2 linked regions of the Homo sapiens genome follow. The protein of the gene in region 1 interacts with the protein of each later gene in a biochemical or structural test. Each region holds a gene or a part of one and is shown on either strand. Other genes may lie near its edges.

What was found.
Region 2: the proteins of FNDC3B (region 1) and ERCC6 form a complex in vitro, tested with the Homo sapiens proteins (one large-scale study listed by BioGRID).

What each region holds. Positions count from the first base shown.
Region 1 is NC_000003.12:172,346,997-172,350,826, forward strand, and holds part of FNDC3B (fibronectin type III domain-containing protein 3B), read left to right. Parts: intron 1-215; coding exon 216-365; intron 366-3,830. UniProt on the Homo sapiens protein: May be a positive regulator of adipogenesis.
Region 2 is NC_000010.11:49,456,522-49,459,427, reverse strand, and holds part of ERCC6 (DNA excision repair protein ERCC-6), read left to right. Parts: intron 1-193; coding exon 194-613; 3' UTR 614-2,906. UniProt on the Homo sapiens protein: Involved in repair of DNA damage following UV irradiation, acting either in the absence of ERCC6 or synergistically with ERCC6. Involved in the regulation of gene expression.

The sequences.
Region 1 (3,830 bases):
CCTGGCCCTATTTTATTTTTAAATTTCTAAATCTCAAAAAAAATTTTGTGGGTACATAGTAGGTATATATATTTGTGATCGTGCCTTTCTTTTATATGTATTTGAAATATTCTGGGGCATGTTGCTCTCTTTCCCATTTTAGTTAATTGAATACAAGCACAGTAGGATTCTCTTCTCAGTGGCATTATTAACTACTTCCATTTCTGCCTTTCCAGAGTCCTGATAGTTCTGGTGCTGACATCTCAGAGTACAGGTTGGAATGGGGAGAAGATGAAGAATCCTTAGAACTCATTTATCATGGGACAGACACCCGTTTTGAAATAAGAGACCTGTTGCCTGCTGCACAGTATTGCTGTAGACTACAGGTAGGTTGACATTATTCAGATGTTACTCACAAGGACTGCTGTCCCATGAAAGGCACTTTGGGAAACCCACTCAAAGGCTTGTGGTGGAGGCTGTCAGGAGGGATGATATGGAAAAAAAGAGTCCATTTAAATAAAAATATATTTGGTTGTTTTGGTGTTTTGCAGTTAATTTCCACTTCTCTAGGAAATTCTGAAACTTAAGAACAAAATAAGATTCTTCTCCATTCTGCTTCTCACCACCCTTGTATCTTGTCTGTTCATCAGTTTGCTGAATAAATGACCCAAGTCCAAGGGAAAGATGACACAGCTCCTTAGGGAAGGAGCCTTCTGTCTCATTCCCCTGAGATGTACATTTCAGTGGGAAAGACTCTTAGAACTGGTAAAAGACAGAAAATTATTTTACGAGCTGTTAAATGGAGCCAAAAATAATCTGGACTAGTCTGCATTAGATTACAGGACCCCACCTCCCACCTCCCAGTGACGGTTATCAAGGCTGGTTATCTATAAGCTTCCACTTGGGAGTCCAGATAGAATAACATCAAGAAAAATTGGTTCATAGCCTAACCCCTCAGAGTGACAATAACCATGGGTTTACTTTTATTTTACTCTCTTGGCTATATTATTATTTTTTCTGTGTAAAGCCTTAGTCTCTTGAGAAAATAGAGTTCTTTGTCCTCCTCTTTCCATTTGTTCAGTAACATTTCTTGAGCATTATAGTACTTTGTACCAGGATCAAAGGAAGATCAGGAAGAGAGATACAAAGATTAATCAGATGTGGTTGTTGACCTTGAAGAGCTCTGTCTTCATACACATTTAGATTTGAATAGATAAAGAAGCAAAGATGCCAAAGTCAAGTTCCCACCTGATTTAAGTCATGGATCAAATTCGTTATTATAAGTACACCCAATGTCTCTGGTCTCTTTGGAGAAAATATTCGCTTCATAACTTAATTTTTCAGATCAACTGAAGCATTTCTGTTAAATTCAGAAGTCTGCTGTATTTGAAACATTTCTGATTAAACTCTTTTGTTATACACCTTTCTTGCTTCTCGAATGAAGCACCTGGGACATAATTAACCTTTTGACAATGAGTCAGTGTCACAGCAAATTGTCTGATATTTATAATAGTGATGCTGAGTCACTGGGGAAAGGTTAAATTATGTGCCACACTCTTGTTTTTCTACCAAGGCAGGATATAAATAAAGAGCTGTCTGCCACCCCAGTAAAGAGCTTCACTCCATTATGGTTTTTGAGTTTTGGTGTTTCTTTAAAATGTTATTATATCTCCTTCTCTTTCAGAGTCTATGTTGTCTTAGCATTGACTTCCCAAAGCTGCATTATAAAAGATACATTAATAAGAATAGTACCTGCATAATCTTGCCTCGTTGTATTAACAGGAGTAGAAATATATTTTCAAAGGTCTGTGCTTATTTATAATAAAATGAGTCAGATCTTATGAAGGGAGTACTACTTTTAAGATTACCATTGCCACACTAAAGGACTATTGCCAGGAAGGGGGTCTGTTCAAACTATACCAATTTATTGTTATTTGTGGACCAAATATGAATTATTTTCATTCAACATGATTACAAAGTCAAGTTAAACCCCAATATTTTTTGAATATATGGCACTTAAGAATTTAAATATTGGCCGGGCATGGGGGCTCACACTTGTAATCCCAGCACTGTAGGAGGCTGAGGCCGGCTGATCTCTTGAGCCAGGAGATAGAGACTAGCCTGGACAACATAACAAAACCCCTCCTCTACAAAAAAAAAAAATACAAAAATTAGCCAGGCATCTGTAGTCCCAGCTGCTCAGGAGCCTGAGGCAGGAGGATCACTTGAGCCAGGTCAAGGCTGTAGTGACCTGTGACTGCACCACTGTAGGCCAGCGTGGGCGACAGAGTGAGAGCCTGTCTCAAAAAAATAAAAATTTATTATAATACCTGTACTGTGTTTTATAGAAATGTGGTGGAACATTTCTTGTTTTGCTCAGGAATTTTTGAATTTTTGTATTTTCAGGACTGTTTTAATTAAGTACCAACGTAATTCCATTCATAGGGCATGTTGTATATTATAGGCATACTATTATTTACAAAAAGTTGATTTTGAATTAAATTTCATTTGAAAACTGTTAATAAAAAGTGGTGTAAATCAAGAAATGTTTTCCATAGAGCCAAGCTAGTTAAAAAGAAAGTAGGATCCTGCAGTAGAAAAAGAACATTGGAAGAATTGGTAAGATTCTGATTAGGTCTGTATGTTAATAGTATAGTATCAGTGATAATGTTTTTCTTTTCTTTTTTTTCTTTTTTTTGAGATGGAGTCACGCTCTGTCACCCAGGCTGGAGTGCAGTGGCGCGATCTTGGCTCACTGCAACCTCCGCTTCACAGGTTCAAGCGATTCTCCTGTCTCAGCCTCCCGAGTAGCCGGGATTACAGGCGCCTGCCACCACGCCTGACTAATTTTTGTATTTTTAGTAGAGATGGGGTTTCACCAGGTTGGCCAGGCTGGTCTCGAACTCCCGACCTCAGATGATCCACCCGCCTCAGCCTCGCAAAGTGCTGGGATTCCAGGTGTGAGCCACCGTGCCCGGCCACCAGTGATAATTTCCTGGTTTTGATCATTATTCTATAGTTCTGTAACATGTTTCTCTTCGGAAAAGCAGAGTAGGAGATAGACAGAAATTTCTCTGTACTATTTTTGCAACTTTTCTGTAAGTATAAAAGTAGTACACAATAAAAAGGTGTTTGAAAAAATAGAGAAAATACTATTTTGTTCATAATTTTCCCAGTGGGAAGGAAGAAAGTGTAGCTCCTACTGTTGGCCTGATACTCTGCCAGCATTTTACATATTAACCGATTTAATCTTTACTGTAATTCTATGAATTAGGCATTACTGTCCCCATTTTACAGCTGAGGAAACAAGCTCAGAGAAATTAACTAACCTAAGATCACACAGTTGTTAAATGATGGAATCAAGGTTTGAACTAAGCTTCAACTCTTAAAAGCCATGTTCTTGTCCTTCTGTGATATGGTGATACAAAGCCCTAGTTGATAGAAACATTGGGCTCCATGATATCCTATTTTTCTGCCCCTGTGATACATTTATATCAGTACCAAAATCTCGAAATACATACTTATAAAATAATTTGTCATGTTAAAATTTTTCCAGAAAGAGAGTTGAGGTATTGAGGTATTGTAATGAAACAGAAGTGGGTATGACAAAATGTTGCAGTAGAGTTTCAACTGTGATTTAATAGCAAATAAATGCTTTAAGCCTGCTTCTTTGAAATTAACAAAGGAGTTATAAGTTTTGTTTTAGACCTTGATTTAAGAGCTCAAACTTAGCTGGGTGTGGTGGTATGTGCCTGTGGTTCCAGCTACTCAGGAGGCTAAGGTGGGAGGATCACTTGAGCCTGGCAAGCAGAGGTTGTTGCAGTGAGCTGAGATTGCGCCACTGCACTCCA
Region 2 (2,906 bases), on another chromosome or scaffold:
CTTAACAGTGGGAGGATTTAGATACCAGACCCTCCTCCTTTCCCTTTTCATTAGGTGGAGTCTCAGTCTCACCCTGTCAACCTCACCACCCTGGCACATGTGTTGTCTTGTGACCCTTCACAGCCTTTGGGGAAGGAAGTGGGGGCATAAACTAGAAATTAAATATATCAGTATAGTGGTCTTCTTTTTATAGGATGGCATCATGAAAAAGGAGGGAAAAGATAATGTCCCTGAGCATTTTAGTGGAAGAGCAGAAGATGCAGACTCTTCATCCGGGCCCCTCGCTTCCTCCTCACTCTTGGCTAAAATGAGAGCTAGAAACCACCTGATTCTGCCAGAGCGTTTAGAAAGTGAAAGCGGGCACCTGCAGGAAGCTTCTGCCCTGCTGCCCACCACAGAACACGATGACCTTCTGGTGGAGATGAGAAACTTCATCGCTTTCCAGGCCCACACTGATGGCCAGGCCAGCACCAGGGAGATACTGCAGGAGTTTGAATCCAAGTTATCTGCATCACAGTCTTGTGTCTTCCGAGAACTATTGAGAAATCTGTGCACTTTCCATAGAACTTCTGGTGGTGAAGGAATTTGGAAACTCAAGCCAGAATACTGCTAAACAACATTGCTTCCTAAACTTTCAAGTCCCTTTTTCTAACGGGCATTTCTGATTATTAATTTATTATTAATAATCATGTTTGTCAATGGAAGTTGGCTGCACTTGATGTTTGTTTGCATGATGTCTACCTCAGAATTAAAACTTTAAGGAAGAAGAAACTCTTCTCTGAAAGTTAAAAGTTTTAATAATGCTAGCTAAAGGAGAAAATACTTGGATTGATTTTTTTTTTTTTGGCAATCTAATTATATTGTAAATCAGGTACCTAACAGTTACTCCTTGGAGCACATTTGTTCCTTTACCCAAAAGATGCTGTCAGGGAGCACAGTTAGAAGTTTGCAGAACAGAAATCTCAATATTTTTTTTTATTGGTGCTAAAAACAGGTCTTACATTCAGTCAGACCTGTTCAATAAGTTCATCAATATCTGATAACAGCATTATTTTGATGCTTAAACTTTAAACATTTATATTTACCATTTGCCACCCACAAAGGTCAGGTTTGTTATTTGTTGTTTGATAATTATATTAATTTTCTTGGAAAGATCCTCTTTTCAAGGTACTGGTAAATTGGTGAGTATTTTTATTAGTAAAGCATGAAATAGTATGGTAATAAATGATAAGACATGTATTTGTGGAAAGCTGTAGGGTATTCAGTTTACCCTGGCTTTCCTTTAAGCAGAGGGCATCTTTTTCTCTCCTACAGTCACAAAATGTGTTATCATTAAAAAAAATCAAATTAAAGCCAAAAGTAGGTACATAAAAACCACACACATGCATGCACACAAACATCACTGCAGCCCACAGCAGACCCAGCCGTTGTTACCATGAAGTGACACCACTCCAGGCCTCTCTTGTCTGCAGGCTGGCAGGCTGTCTTCTCTCCAGTTGCCTTCGTCTTGCGCCTGCCTTTGCATTCCTTGCGACGGGCTTTCTTGTTTCTGCGGTTTGGATTCCAGCCAAGGCTGTTTGTATCTCACTACTGTTTATGTGTTTGTGGTTCTGTGATGGTGTTGCTTTGATCCTCAGTTTATTTTCTTACCCATGTTTTTCTTGTTTCCTTCTCAGGATGATTTTATCATCTCATCTTTGAAGTGTTGTTTTCCGAAATTCATCGTATTCCTGAAATTTCTTCTTAGCTGTCTTAGTGCAGTTTGTTTCTTGGATTTGTATTCTCTGGCATGCTCTTTTCCTCTCTCTCATTTTTCTGTAGTATGCCTGCCCTCCTACCCTGCTATTTCTTTACATCTCTCTCATGCTTAACATGGATAGCTGTGTCCAGATCTTCTGTCTGCTCATCCATGTGACTCAGAGAGGAGGGTTCTGGGCAGGGGGGCCTTGCCGGACTGCATGAGAGGACATGAGTTTTGCTTTCTCTGCTCTAATATTTTGCTTAAGCCAAGAATCCTTTTCTTAGAGATGTTCTATATGATTCCTGTCAGGATTTTCTAGTTTTTTTTGGATTATAGCTTGTTCATTTCTTTTGTTTTTAGTTTGGTTTATATATAATGAGGGAAGAAGATGATTACATTATTTTTGTCACTTTGCCATCATTGTTTAGAAGTCATAGAAAGAATTTTTAAATAGGCCAATAAGTCTTAAACTTGAGTACTTGGCTTAGAAGAAAGTCAAAACTCCTTCCTTTTTGACTAAGTGGTTTGTTTCTGGGGAGCTCTTAATTTCTATTTTTATAATCATTAGCCTATAAGGAAATTGTGTCTTCCTTGTTCTCAGGGTGATCTGCTGACCTTGTTCACTCATGAAGCATTTGGGTATCATACTTATAGTGTCTGAAACATAAACTGTATTGAGCTAGACAAGGTATAGCCTCCTCTTCAAGTAGCAAATACTATCAAAAGCTATAATGCAGTAGGAGCAAGGTGGTCCTTGTTCCAGTTTTTGTCTCAGTTCTGCTGCTGATGTACCATGATCTTGGGAAGGTGGTGTCTCAGTGTGGAGATCTGACACATTGTTACCGTGCCTCCTGGCTGGAGGGACTTGGAGAACAATGCAGTTAAGTAGAATGGTTTTAACAATACAGAGAAATTTATTCATTTAGATAAAAATCTGATTTTTAGAACTTTAAAAGCTTTGTACAGTGTAAATAGATTTAATGTATTTAACATGCTTTATCAGCACAAATAAAGGATTTTAAAATTTTGTCAAAAAATTAAATGTTAATACTATCACCATTAAAAATGTTCAAGCAATAGTCTGCCTCCCCACCCCCACACCATCTTGCACCTGTTCCACAGCTAAGTACAGCCCTAGGTTTGGTGTGTATTCTCCATGCATTTA